Linked DNA regions of Homo sapiens. The protein of the gene in region 1 interacts with the protein of each later gene in a biochemical or structural test. Each region holds a gene or a part of one and is shown in the gene's direction. Other genes may lie near its edges.

Region 1 (8,058 bases):
AATAGGTAGCTCAGTAATGCACTCATGGTTAGCTCTCCTTATTTTCCCTGTTTCATTCTTCCTACTTCCTCGCTCCAGTCTCTTGGAATTATCTCAGAAAAAAAATTAATTACCTCTAACTAAATCCTTGTCTCGGCCTGTTTGTTGAACAAAAGACTCAAACTAAAATCCAACTGTATTGGGTTGAATAGTGTCCCCCCAAAGTTTATGTTCACCCACCACCTATGAATGTGACAGCATTTGGAAGCAGGGTTTTGCAGATGTAACTAAGTTAGAATAAGTTCATACTTGATTAAGAGGGACCCTAATCAAATGACTGGCATCACTTTAAAACAGGTAAATGTGGACACAGACACACAGGGAAGATCACCCAGCAACAGATACAGAGATTGGAGCAATGCATCTACAAGCCGAGGCAGTGGCAAGGATTGCTGATACCCCTAGAAGCTAGGAGAAGCATGGGACAGACTTTGCCAGACACTTCCAGAAAGAACCAACTCTGCTGATACCTTGATTTCAGGCTTCTGGCCTCCAGAACAGTGAAAGAATCAATTTCTGTTGCCTGCTGCCAGCAGTTTGTAATACTTTGTTATAACAGCACTAAGAAATTAATACCCCAGAGTGTCTTAGTCAGGGTCCAAGAAGACAGAAACCACTCCAAATATTTGCAAACAAAAGGAGTTTATTCCAGGGAACTGATTACATGACAGGAGCCAAAGAGGGTAAAATGAATCAACCGAGAGATTAGCAATAGCAGGAAGCCACTACCACACCTAGCTGGAGGCATGGAGGGAGCAAGCAGTGTTGCCAGGACCCTGATCACCTGGCAGAATATGAAACCATATCTAGCCTGCCAGGTGAGAGCTGGAGCCAGGAGGAGAGCAGAGGAGTCATCCTGAAACAGTCCGCAAGCTAAGAAGAAAGAGTGGGAAGGAAAAAGACCCTAATTCTTCAGCACCACCCATTGGCTTGGTCCAAGAAGACAGAGCTGTCAGACAGAGAAATCTGTGTGATGTAGACTGTGTCACAGAGAAGAGCAGCAGGAAGATGAGGGCTGGATCTGAAAGCTACCTGGGCAAGGATCCAAACCAACAACTCCACTCCAACCCCATGAGACTCAAAGGAGGAGAGTTTAAGCTTTTGCTGTTTTTTAAATAAATTACTAGGATCCATAATAATACCAGTAAAAGGTGAGATCTGAAGGATGAGAGACACTATGAAGAAACAGTGTGAGACAGTAATAATGCACTGATGATCATGGCAGTACAAAAAATGGGAAGTCCTTCATGAGTCAGGTTTCTTTAAACCCACATGCAACTCCCACTTAGATGGACACAACAGTATGTGAAGACTCATACTGTGTTCTTTTGTTCCAAGAACCACCACGGGAACACACCAGGAAAACCAAAGGAATTCACACACCCTTTGAAAGAAGCAGGACACTGCTGCAAATTTTGCAAAACAGGTGAAAAACTGTAAGTTCCCAAAGTGTGAGAGGGAAAAAACCTGCCTCTGAACACACATCCCCACTGGGGAATCTGAAAATCCAGATCAAGGGAGAATTTAACCTTACCTTGAACTGAAACAAATGTAGGCAGTCACACAAAATATAAAAGTAGAAGTATCAGTATCAGAAGACTGCAAGGCACTTCCAATCTTCAGCTTGAGCCCAGGGAAGCCATTCCTGACTATATCTCACAGGATCTCTCAGGGAAGGCAGCCAGTGGAATTGGGGAGGGGTCACCAGGTGAAGGAAGCTTCCAACTGAAATTGGTAGTGGTTTCAATTGGACACAAACTTTCTTTAGTGGAGTCTAGGGGACGAGTGGGAGCTTTGGCAATATGAGCACATGAACTCAGAAGCAAAGAAGCCACTCCCGTTGGAGTGGGCAGATGGGGAGGGGTGATATCTGAAATCCATGCTTGCTTTCTCAGTGGGAAAGTTCACAGCCTTGGGCAAGATCTGAGTGGGGCACTTTGGGAGTGAGACTGGCCTTGCCAACTGTGTGGGAGCTGGGTGAGACCTCTCGCTACCAGCTTTCCGCCACTTCCCTGGTGAATTATATGACACAACAGAGGTAGCCAAGATCCCCTCTGGAAAATAACCCCATTGGCCTAAGAACCACCCCCACATCCCGCACAGTGGCCACAGCAAACCCCACCCAAGGAGACTCTGAGCCCAGACCCACCTAACCCTGCCCCAACATGATGGTATTTCTTTACTCACCCTGGTAACCAAACACAAAAGATAGAAACTCTTGGGAGCTTTCAGGCCCCACCCATCATCTGAGAAACCAAAATACTCACCCTGGCCAACTTAGGGCAAACCTAGATCCCTCTACTACCAATGCAGCTGGTGCTCTCTTGAAAGCACCACTTCTTGGCTGGAGGCCAAACAACACAGGCCATTACAGCAACTCATGACAGAATAACCCTGAACCCAGGAAGGAGAAGATAACACCTAATTCCAATGCCTGCAACATCCTGGCTAAACAGAGGTCCTGAGTGTGTCCACATGAAAACTTCACTGCTAGCATAACCAGCATTCAAGAAACCCAGCACACTACACATATCTACAACCAAGGACTCTCACAGAGTCTACTTCACTCCCCTTCCACCTCCACCAGAGCAGGTAATGGTATCCATGGCTGGGAGACCTGAAGAGAGATCACATCACAGGACTCTTTGCAGACATTCCCCAGCACCAGCTGGAACCTGGTAGCGCCACTGGGAGGCTAGACCCAGAAAAGCAGTAACAGCCAATGCAGTCCAGTGGTCAGAAAGTCCCATCCCTAGGGGAAGGGGGAGAGCACCACATCAAAGGATCACCCCATGGGATAATAGAATCTGAACAGCAGGACTTGAGTTCCAGACCTTTCCACTGAAATAGTCTACCCAAATGATAAGGAACTAGAAAGGTAATTCTGGTAATATGATAAAACAGAGTTCTATATCACCTCCAAAAGATCACACTAGCTCCCCAGCAATGGATCCAAACCAAGAAGAAATCTCTGAATTGCCAGATAAACAATCCAGAAGATCATTAAGCTACTCAAGGAGATACCAGAGAAAGGTGAAAAAACAACTTTAAAAATTAAAAAATATATATATACATAAATATAGGATATGGGTGAAAAATTCCCCAGAGAAATAGATATCATAAAGAAAAAATAATCACAACTTCTGGAAATGAAAGCCATGCTTAGAGAAATACAAAATCCACTGGAAAGTTTCAACACTAGACTAGAACAAGCGGAAGAAAAAACTTCAGAGCGCAAAGACAATGCTTTCAAATTAACCCAATCAAACAAAGACTAAGAAAAAATAATTTTTAAAAAATGAACAAAGCCTCCAAGAAATGTGGGATTATGTTAAACAGTCAAACCTAAGAATAATTGGTGTTCCTGAGGAAGAAGAGAAATCTAAAAGCTTGAAAACCTTATTTGAGGAAATAATTGAAGAAAACTCCCCTGTCCTTGCTAGATACCTAGACATCCAAATACAAGAAGCTCAAAGAACACCTGGAAAATTCATCACAAAAAAGTCTATCACCTAAAGTCCTATCCCAGTTCTGTTAAAGTAATAGCAGGAATAGCACCTTATAAATACCTAGAAAAATAGTAGAAGGAAACATGCTTAAGCATTAATAATGATCTCCGGTGGTAGAATTTTTGGTAAGTTTAATTTTATCATTTACATGTTCCTACTTAACTATACATATATATTTATATATATTCATATACATAAATATACAAACATATGTATATATACACATTTTTGTTTATGGACAGCCTATGACTGTGAGCCAAGGGACATCAGAGACATGGCTCTCTGGAAACTGAGAGAATACTTAGTGGACAGTTTTTTGTTTGTTTGTTTGTTTGTTTTTGAGATGGAGTCTCGCTCTGTCACCCAGGCTGGAGTGCAGTGGCGCGATCTCAGCTCACTGCAAGCTCCACCTGGGTTGACGCCATTCTCCTGCCTCCGCCTCCCAAGTAGCTGGAACTACAGGAGCCCGCCACCACGCCCGGCTAATTTTTTGTATTTTTAGTAGAGATGGGGTTTCACCATGTTAACCAGGATGGTCTCGATCTCCTGACCTCGTGATCCACCCGTCTTGGCCTCCCAAAGTGCTAGGATTACAGGCATGAGCCACCGCGCCCGGCCTTAGTGAACAATTATTATCAGGATGATCAGCATCCATTTTTCCATCACCTGGCAACAACAACTAGCATTTCTCAAGGGAAATCCCCTCCTCATTCATAAGCACCATAGATGGAGTGGAACAGTCCCCACCTCAGCTTAAGGAGGGCTAAATAACCAAAGCATAAAGCAATCAGTCCACTACACTTCAGTGGACCCAATGATGACTCATTTTGGTTCAATAAATATCAAGTCCAGAACTTTTGTGCAGAACTGTGGAATAAAAAAAGTTATCTTTGTCACAGAATATTTATATTTAAAGAGGGGATTCTAAATATCCCAAAAATATGAATCTGAGATAGTGGTAAGATAGGAATGGGTTGCCATTTGCAGTATTTGTTGGGTGTGTGCAACTCTGCATACTGCTAAGGCAAGTCCAGCCTCCGTCTCACACCAACAGGCAGATTTCCCCACCACGGCCCTTACCATCTTGTGCTCTAACCCCAGATTTTCAGTCTACTCTTGCTAACCATCAATTCTTCAAGGGCAAGAGCCATGTCTCTCATATCCCTGGATCTGGCTTGCTAAATAATTATTCATGATTTTATCTGAGTAGAAAAAGAGCCAAGAACTGAGAAAAGGAGACATTCTTGGTTCTCAGTCACTGAGGAGCTTCTGCAGTACCAGCCTTTCTGCTAGCTGCAGCCACAGCTTCAACAGCTCCACCTCCTTGTTCTTTATTCTTGCTTTCACCTTGTTACTCAGCAGCAGGGGTGTAAATGTGACAGTGCCATGTCAACTTAAACCAAACCAGATAATTTTAATAAACCACCTTCTATAATGACACCCATCAAAACCAGAAGGGGACAAGTCTAGGAGGTCTCTGAGTTTACTGTACCCATCCCTCCTTCATCTCCCTCCAGCATTTGTTTCTGGAAGGAGTCAACACCAACAGCTCTGACCTGGGCAGCCTTCCTGAGAAAATGCAGCCATTCCTCCTCCTGTTGGCCTTTCTTCTGACCCCTGGGGCTGGGACAGGTAAGTGACTATCCCTATTCCAGAGGCCTGAACCCATCTTATAAGATACCCTGTACCCATGAGCACTGGTCAGGAATTTTCCTCAATCTGAGCCCACCTCCCATTCCACACCCAGACTTATAAATCTGAGGCTAGATAGACACTCAGCAAAGATCGAAAAATGAAGGGTGTTCCCTAAAAGGTTTAATGGGTGTTAGCCTCTCCCTAGACCTCTCCTTTATGACCTGGAGTGTGGATTGTTCTTAGAAAGGCATTTGGTAGGGAATGTGAAGCTAAAAAAGATAAGTAATTATTACTCTACACTCCAACCCAGGAAAGAGGAGCTCAGACACCAAGTTGCAGTCATAGGAGTTGTTACTGGACTCAGCTTAAGAACCACTTATTCAGTGCCCCCACCCAGTCACCCCTGCCAGGAGGGAAGCCCATGGTGCAACTGATCTCAGAGATGGCAAGATGACTGTGTCCATAGCTCTCCCATTACCTTGGCTCCACCTGGGCTTTGCGATTCATTTTTAGTTGATTTCTCCACTTCCTTCTGCCTTTGCAGGCCCTCAGCTACTCCACTGACCTGGTGATAACCCCCTCTAACATCCCTGAGGTCCTGAATCCCACCAGCACTACCCCCACTAAACCTCAGCCAAAGGCTAATTGGAGGCTATTCATTTATGCACCAAACAACACTTACTGAGAACCTAGAATGTGTTCAGCCCTGGCACATGAGAATTTTAGAAAATCCAACTCCAGAAGCTCATGGGTAGATCATTAGAAAATGGCACCAATCAGGAGGACAGCAGAGGCTCAGAGGAATCAGAGAGACTCACTAAAAAGGAGGAGCCTGGGAAGTCCTGTCCAGGATCCTCTGGGGCTCTACCACTGTGAAAATAGATCTTTCTTCCTCCATGTGTGTTTCTGCAGTAGGATGCAGAAGTCAAGCACTGTCCATTCTTTCTGAGAGAAGGTTCTGAGACTTAAAGTTCAGAAAAGCTTGCTCTGCCTGCAAGGAGTACTGCCTGCAGAGCTCAGGAGGACCCCTCCCTCACTGTCTGCAGCACACAAAACACTTCACCCTCAATCACTGTCGTCCTAAGCCTTCTCTCCTGACTGCAGCCATCCCCAGCTACTTTATCTTCCAGTCTTTCCTTTCAGAGGAGATCATCGGGGGCCATGAGGCCAAGCCCCACTCCCGCCCCTACATGGCCTTTGTTCAGTTTCTGCAAGAGAAGAGTCGGAAGAGGTGTGGCGGCATCCTAGTGAGAAAGGACTTTGTGCTGACAGCTGCTCACTGCCAGGGAAGGTAAGGAGCAGCACCAGCTCACCTCCTGAGTTCCCCCTACAGGGACCCTTGTTTTCTCCTGGGGACTGCAGCCCAGGGGAGCTTCCAGAGTTCCTGGTAACACAAGCCCATGAAAGCTCATCGGAGCAGCCACCTGGGAATAGGACTAAGATGATGAAAGGCTGAGAAATAGGACAGGGTCAGAGGGTCAGAGGGTCAGAGGTCAGAGCAAGTGGCATGGTTTCACACACTGGCCCAATAAGGCAGTAGTAAAGGTTGAATCCATGCATTAAGGATCAAAATGCAAACTCGAGCAATTTCATGATATTTCCTGAAGGCAAGAGAGAGCCCCCAGAAGCCCTACTCTTCATGTCTTTGTGAAGTAGAGGGCACAGTCACTCAGCCCTGGAGCCCTCCTGTCCCTTCAACTTCCCCTCAGCTGCAGCCCTACCCTGCCACAGCTGTCATCTGCTCTTCACTGCTCCTGGGCTCTATCCCCTGTGACTCCACCCCCATCCTCACTCTGCTCTCTGTGCAGCTCCATAAATGTCACCTTGGGGGCCCACAATATCAAGGAACAGGAGCGGACCCAGCAGTTTATCCCTGTGAAAAGACCCATCCCCCATCCAGCCTATAATCCTAAGAACTTCTCCAACGACATCATGCTACTGCAGGTGAGGCACACTCCTGCCACTCTTGCTCTTCTTGGTCCAGTTGGTTCCACTCCCACTGGGATGCCGGCCCTTTCCTCCTTTCCATCCTGACCTCTTGGTCAGTTCCTGTGCCTTAGAGGAGAGGGAAGATTGTGCAGCCCCATCACTGTGTCGGGGCCCAGAAGGCCATTGCCTGACCTGGACTTTCTTGCTTCTTCCCCACCAGCTGGAGAGAAAGGCCAAGTGGACCACAGCTGTGCGGCCTCTCAGGCTACCTAGCAGCAAGGCCCAGGTGAAGCCAGGGCAGCTGTGCAGTGTGGCTGGCTGGGGTTATGTCTCAATGAGCACTTTAGCAACCACACTGCAGGAAGTGTTGCTGACAGTGCAGAAGGACTGCCAGTGTGAACGTCTCTTCCATGGCAATTACAGCAGAGCCACTGAGATTTGTGTGGGGGATCCAAAGAAGACACAGACCGGTTTCAAGGTTGGGTTTCCAGCCTCTACCCAGAAAGACCACAGGGAGAGAGGAACTTGAGGGAGTTCTGGGGTATGACAGTGGCCAGATCTTTATGCTCTCAGCCCAGAGCTTGGGCAGCCTGTGTCCCCCTGGAATCTAGTCTTTAGTCCACTCCTTGGGTGGACTGGGGTGGCTGGAGGGGAAGGATCTGTCATCCGACAGTCACTTATCACCAAAGTGTCCGTGAGAATTGCAGAGAAAGGCTTGGTCTGGGGAGAGCCAGAAAGCACAGCCAGGGCCATGCTGGAGACCCAGGACTGAGGGAGGTGAGTGACAAGGCCTGCCTGGCACTGATGTCACACAAAATCCATAACAGAGACCACCCATCCCAGGGAACACTAGCTCAGTCTTTCCTCTCTCTGTTCACAGGGGGACTCCGGGGGGCCCCTCGTGTGTAAGGACGTAGCCCAAGGTATTCTCTCCTATGGAAACAAA
Region 2 (7,176 bases), on another chromosome or scaffold:
GGCTAATTTTTGTATTTTTAGTAGCGACAGGGTTTCACCATGTTGGCCAGGCTGGTCTCGAACTCCAGACCTCAGGTGATCTGCCCACCTCAGCCTCCCAAAGTGCTGGGATTACAGGTGTGAGCCACTGTGCCCAGCCAGTAACTTTAATATAGTATCTGTTTTCAAAACCCTCTTAGCATTTTTTCAAATTTAGGTATTATGTTTATGTTAACGTAATACCTCAAGTGATCCGTAGTACCTTTGCAGTACTGATGCAGGAGGATGGCTTGAGTCCAGGAGTTAGAGACCAGCCTGGGCAACATGATGAGGCCCCATCTCTACAAAAAAATTTTAAAAATTAGCTGAGTGTGTTAGCAGTTTACCTGTAGTCCTAGCTACTTGGGAAGCTGAGGTGGGAGGATTGATGGAGCCCAGAAGGTAGAGGCTGCAGTGGCTGTGATCATACCACTGCACTCCAGCCTGGATGACAGAGCGAGACACTGTTTCAGGGGGCGAGGGGAAGAAACTTGAGAGTCTTCGTGAGCATACTCTGGCTGGGGAGGCTGCCTGATTTGCAAATCGTTCTTTGTTCAATTAAACTCAAAAAGAAAAAAACCTTAAAATCTTTACAATATCGATAATGGTTGCATGGGAAATTATCTCTAAACTTAGGTTCTTGCTAAGAACCCCTCAGATCATATTGTTTGGTGTGGGGTTTTTCTGCAATTCTCAGAACTGCTTTTTTTTTTTTTTTAAGCTGCACGTCTCTGCATTTAAAATGTCTCATGTTCCTTTTTTTGGTATTAATTTCTTTATGACTATGAGGAGAAAAATTAGAAATTATTCATTCTGTGTTTAATACTTAGAACAATACTAAGATGTATATAGAAAAGGTTGTATCTCTCCCACAACCTGCTAACTCTCAAATCCTACTCTTCTGAGGTTATCAAGGTTAAAAGCTTTTGACACTTTGCTTCATGCTCATACTAATTTTTTTAGTGGACCTTATATTTTACAACAGTTCTAGGTTTACAGCAAAATTGAGCAGAAGGTACAGAGATTTTCCATATATCCCCTGCCTCCACACAAGCATAGTGCCTTCACCTTTTAAAACATCCCCCACCAGAGTGGTACATTTCTAACAATTTTATTTCCTTCCCTTTCCCCCGCTAAATATAGGATGCATTTTTGTGGAGAAAAGTTTTGTAATCAATAATCTTTTCATTCTCCTCTTTAATATGAAGGATGTTTCTAATTTTTTTAGCTGTAATCATTCTTTGACAAATATTCTTATATATAAATCTTAGTAAACATGTTTATTGATTTCTTCAAGGAAAATTCTTAGAAGGAGCCATACTGGCTCAAGGATTATGCACATTTAAAAAACACTGATAATTGTCAGTTTACATCTACCTGAATGGCTAGTTCTCTGTGTTCAAGTCAATACTAGGTAGTCTTGGTTTTCTTTCTAATCTTAGCCAGTTTGTTAGGTGAAAAATGCTGTCTCGTTGCTTTAAATTGTATTTCTTTGATTAACAATGAAATGAGGTTGGATTTTTTTTTTAGTTTACAGTACATTATTTATTTATTTATTTTTTGTGATGGAGTCTCACTCTTGTCTCCCAGGCTGGAGTGCAGAGTGCAGTGGCGTGATCTTGGCTCACCACAACCTCCACCTTCCAGGTTCCTCAGCTTCCCAAGTAGCTAGGATTATAGGTGCACACCACCATGCCCGGCTAATTTTTGTATTTTTAGTGGAGACGGGGTTTCACCATGTTGGTCAGGCTGGTTTCGAACTCCTGACCTCGGGTGATCCACCTGCTTCGGCCACCCAAAGTGCTGGGATTACAGGCATGAGCTATTGCGCTTGGCCTATTTTTTATAATTTTTAAAAAAATCATTAGCTGGGCATGGTGGCATGTGCTTGTCGTCCTAGTTACTTGGAAGGCTGAGGAGGAAGATCAATTGAGCCCGGGAGTTTCAGGCTGCAGTGAGCTGTGGTTGCACCACTGCATTCCAGTCTGGGCAACAAAGCAAGACCCGATCCCTGAAAAATAGTGTCTTTTTTTTTTTTAAGACAGAGAGACAGTATTGCTCTCCTCTCAGGCTGGAGTACAGTGGCGGTGATCTCAGCTCACTGCAACCTCCACCTCCCGGGTTCAAGCTAGTCTTGTGCCTCAGCCATCCGAGTAGTTGGGATTACAGGCGTGCACCACCATGTGTGGCTAATTTTTGTATTTTTAGTAGAGTCAGGGTTTCACCACTTTGGCCAGTCTGTTGTCGAACTTCTGGCCTCAAGAAATTGACCCGCCTCAGCCTCCCAAAGTGCTGGGATTATGGGCTTGGGCCACCGTGCGAGGCCAATAAAATATCCTTTAACTGTTTTCTATTAGGGTGTTCTCTTTTTACCCTTCTTCTTTGTTTGTAAGAATTCTTGACAAAATTTGTTTGTCTTTTACTTTTTATGTTACTTCTGGCATTCCAAATAGTCATACTTGGGTTTTTCCTTGGCTTGTATATTGAGAGTTCCTCTATGCTTAAATTTGAGAAACATTTACTTTAACTTTTTTTTTTTTTTTTTTTTTTGAGGCAGCGTCTTACTTTGTTGCCCAGGCTGGAGTACAGTGGCACAATTATGCCTCACTGCAGCTTCAACCTGCCAGGCTTAAGCAATCCTCCCACTTCAGCTTCCTGAGCTGGGACTAGAGGCACGTACCTCTATTTCTTATTTATTTTATTTATTTATTTATTTTTTGGAGAGCTGGGGTCTTGCCATGTTGCCCAGGCTGGTCTTGAACTCCTAGACTCAAGCAATGCACCCACCTCAGCCTCCTAAAGTGCTGGGATTAGGCATGAACCACCACTCCTGGCCCCCCACCCCCTTTTTTGAGATGGAGTCTCACTCTTTTGTCAGGCTGGAATGCAGTGGCACAATCTTGGCTCACTGCAGCCTCTGCCTCCCGGTTTCAAATGATTCTTCTGCCCCAGCCCCCTGAGTAGCTGGGACTACAGGTGTGTGCCACTATGTGCAGCTAATTTTTGTATTTTTAGTAGAGACGGGGTTTGACCATGTCGGCCAGGGTGGTCTCAATCTCTTGACCTCCCAAAGTGCAGGGATTACAGGCGTGCGGCACCGTGCCTGGCCCCGTCCCTTATTTTTTAATTTTAAAAAATTAGAAGGGCAGGTGTGGTGGCTCATGCCTGCAATCCCAGCACTTTGGGAGGCCGAGGTGGGCAGATCGCTTGAGATCAGGAGTTCAAGGCCAACATGGTAAAACCCTGTCTCTACTAAAAATAACAAAAATTCGCTGGGCGTGGTGGTACATGCCTGTAATCCCAGCTACTCAGGAGGCTGAGGCAGGAGAATCACTTGAACCTGGGAAGCGGAGGTTGCGGCAAGCTGAGTTCATGCCACTGCACTCCAGCCTGAGCGACAGAGTAAGACTCTGTCTCAAAAAAAAATAAGAATTGAGTGATTAACCAATTTCTTCCAGTTCTTTTTATTTAACCATCTGTTCTTTCCACACTGATTTGCAAGAGCCTTTTCATATAATCTTTAAATATATTCTTCTTTAAGGTTTTCTAGTCTATTGACACATCTGTTACACTATTTTAGTAATTGACATTTTAGTTTTATCTTTTTGCTAATTTGTAAACATTATTGTATATTTGGGGAAAGTGTTTTGCCTTTTGTAACTTATGTATTTTTAAATAACAGAACTTGGTACTGTAGAGTAATGTCAGGATTGGAGTCCATATTATACAGTGTTCTGAAATACATTGTAATTATCTCACAGTATTATTTTGGCGACTTCAATTTGCCACGGGACAAGTTTCTAAAGGAACAGATAAAACTGGATGAAGGCTGGGTACCTTTGGAGATAATGATAAAATTCAACAGGTAACAAGCTTTTAAAAATAATCTTTAGGTTTTCTGTTTACAATGAGTGCTACTGCTGAGTCTTATGTTTTTATATGTACTCTTCAGGTTGAACCGTCTAACAACAGACTTTAATGTAATTGTGGAAGCATTGAGCAAATCCAAGGCAGAACTCATGGAAATCAGTGAAGATAAAACTAAAATCAGAAGGTCTCCAAGCAAACCCCTACCTGAAGTGACTGATGAGTATAAAAATGATGTAAAAAACAGATCTGTTTATATTGTAAGTGGGCCTGTAATGCATTTAAATATCTTACATTTATTTAGAAAGTAAAGTACGGAAGAATAAGGGCTCAGGAATCACAGCCTCACTAATTACTGTATGTCCTTTCGTAATATTCTTAACCTAAGTTTCTTTTGTTTTGTTTTGTTTTGAGACAGTCTCATCCTGTTGCTCACGTTGGAGTGCAGTGGTGTGATCATGGCCCACTGCAGTCTTGACCTCCTGGGCTCAAGTGATCCTCCCACCTCAGCCTCCTGAGTAGCTGGGACTACAGGTGCATGCTACCATGCCTGGCAAAAAATTTTTTGTAGAGACGGGTCTTCCTGTGTTGCCCAGGCTGGTGTCAATCTCCTGGGCTCAAGTGATCCAATCACCTTGACCTCCCAAAGTGCTGGGATTACAGGTGTGAGCCACCATGCCTAGTCCTAAGTTTTATCTTCATAAACGTGGATATTTTCTACCTTGTAGAACTGTTGTGAGAATTAAATGAAAAAAAATATATATACCATTGGATGAAATCTTTGACATATTCTAAGCACCTATTGCCTATTAGCTGTTCTTATTTATCAGCAGCTAAACTTGATTGCAGTTTTCTTTAGTGTATTTTTAAATAGTTTTTTATTACGGAAAATTTCAGATACATATATAAATAGATTCAATAATGTACCATCACCAGCTTTAGTAGTTAATAACAGAACATGCAAATCATCTTGTTTTATTTCTGCTTCAACTGAATTATTTTGAAGCAAATACCAGATGAATCACTTTTATTGTACTGGAGAGTAGTGGCTCCTAAACAAGGCTGTTAAGTGATTAACAAAGAGAAATAGAGATAGATAGGTATATCCTGGGTTCATTTCAAGAAAAAATGAATCAAATTCTCTCCAATTGTTTATCTGAGAAGTCATTATTTGTTATTTGTACATTTCTTCCCACTCTTCACAGAAAGGCTTCCCAACTGATGCAACTCTTGATGACATAAAAGAATGGTTAGAAGATAAAGGTCAAGTACTAAATATTCAGATGAGAAGAACATTGCATAAAGCATTTAAGGTATGATAATACAGACTTTTTCTAGTTTTAAAATATATGGGACATAACTTAAAAAAATATTTTCCTTCCTTTTTACAGGGATCAATTTTTGTTGTGTTTGATAGCATTGAATCTGCTAAGAAATTTGTAGAGACCCCTGGCCAGAAGTACAAAGAAACAGACCTGCTAATACTTTTCAAGTAAGTCTTTTTGCTGATGTTTCTCCTGGCCTTTTACTTATATGGACACACACTAGGGTAAGGAGCATGGAAGTAGTATCCCCTGAAAGGCCAATATTCTTAGTATCTTTAGATGACCTTTGAGAAATGCTTGATATTTGTTCAGTGAGAACTATAGTCTTTTGAGACTATAAGAAAAGTGTTCATTAGTACCTTTTCACTGTTAACAATTTTTTTTTCTTTTTCTTTTTTTTTTGAGACAAGTTTCACTCTTGTCACCCAGGCTGGAGTGCAGTGGTGTGATCTTGGCTCCCTGCAACCTCTGCTTCCTGGGTTCAAGCGATTCTCCTGCCTCAGCCTCCTGAGTAGCTGGGACTACAGGCGCGTGCCACCTCGTCCACCTAATTTTTGTATTTTTAGTAGAGATGGAGTTTCACCATGTTGGCCAGGCTGGTCTTGAACTCCTGACTTCAGATCATCCGCCTGCCTTGGCCTCCCAAAGTGTTGGGACTACAGGCGTGAGCCACTGCGCCCAGCCACTGTTAGCCATTATTAAAGGAGGTTATGTTTTAATACTGATTTTGCATCTAAAACTTTTGATCAGGCTGGGTATTAAAATTTGGTCTTTTGTGTGTTTGGAAAATATATCAATGCAGTTTTCATCTTATTTTTCATAGCCTATATGTCTTTTTTTTTTTTTTTTTTTTTTTACAGTACAAAGGATTTGAGATTTGGGTCACATTCTTTGTGAATGTGTGTCTGTCTAAGTGTCTAAAAATGGGGATGAACCAGAGCATTTTCATGATAAAATTAGGTGTAGGGCCATAGTTCCCTACTTTAGAAGACTGTGCATTAGTCTTCTAAATGGTATATACTAAACTTGATTGACTTAGAGATGCACTGTGATGGGTCATAGTATCAGTGTTAAATCCTCAAAAATTATTTAACATGATTTTCATATGTTATTGTTGGATCTTGGGGATTTTAGAATTTTCTCCTTTTGTGGAATTAACACTATAGAAAACTGCAATATTATTTGCATGACTTCTGATACACTTTTTTCCCTATACATGAATGATAAATGGAAATCAACATGAAATTGCTAATGGATAGGGGGTTTCTTTTTGGGGTCATGAAAATGTTCTGAAATTAGTAGTGATGGTTGTACAACTGAATATACTAAAAAACATTCAAGGTACACTTTAAAAGAGTGAATTTTGTGGCACATGGATTTTTTCCTCAGTAAAGCTGTTATATAAAAAAACATGAGAGAGTAAATTCCTTGGCATATTTTGAATTTTTAGTTGATGATTATGTTGATAGTAAGCGTGTGCAACATTCATTGCTGTGCCATGTCTTAAGTTATTCAAAATAATCTGCAGTCTTAACTTTGTTCTCGTGAACTTAGCCTCTGTACTGTGTGTTCTTTAGGGACGATTACTTTGCCAAAAAAAATGAAGAAAGAAAACAAAATAAAGTGGAAGCTAAATTAAGAGCTAAACAGTAAGTATGTTGAACTAATCACGACATAATTTGAATTCCTTAAAGCTCTGACAGAAATATAGCTGGTGAGCTCTGAAATAGTGGCAGTAGACCTTTCTCTTTGCTAGTGAAACACTGAGATCTTAAGCTGCCTTGACAATCTCAGGGCCAAATTGCATTGCAGTCTAGCATTGGACGATCAAAAAAACCTAAGGACTTCTGGCTTTGGTTAAGTAAGTTTAGTGATCATGATTGGTTAACTTTATTAGGACTTAATTTTCTTATATAGTAAATAGAAGTATGTTATAATTATATTTTTATTTGTAGGGAGCAAGAAG

The links.
Region 2: of the proteins of GZMH (region 1) and SSB, one has a biochemical effect on the other in vitro, tested with the Homo sapiens proteins (one study listed by BioGRID).

The regions. Positions count from the first base shown.
Region 1 is NC_000014.9:24,606,681-24,614,738, reverse strand, and holds the start of GZMH (granzyme H isoform 1 preproprotein), read left to right. Parts: upstream 1-5,053; 5' UTR 5,054-5,125; coding exon 5,126-5,180; intron 5,181-6,326; coding exon 6,327-6,474; intron 6,475-6,991; coding exon 6,992-7,127; intron 7,128-7,332; coding exon 7,333-7,590; intron 7,591-7,992; coding exon 7,993-8,058. UniProt on the Homo sapiens protein: Cytotoxic chymotrypsin-like serine protease with preference for bulky and aromatic residues at the P1 position and acidic residues at the P3' and P4' sites. Probably necessary for target cell lysis in cell-mediated immune responses.
Region 2 is NC_000002.12:169,801,695-169,808,870, forward strand, and holds part of SSB (lupus La protein), read left to right. Parts: intron 1-3,779; coding exon 3,780-3,883; intron 3,884-3,970; coding exon 3,971-4,145; intron 4,146-5,090; coding exon 5,091-5,198; intron 5,199-5,276; coding exon 5,277-5,377; intron 5,378-6,787; coding exon 6,788-6,859; intron 6,860-7,165; coding exon 7,166-7,176. UniProt on the Homo sapiens protein: Binds to the 3' poly(U) terminus of nascent RNA polymerase III transcripts, protecting them from exonuclease digestion and facilitating their folding and maturation.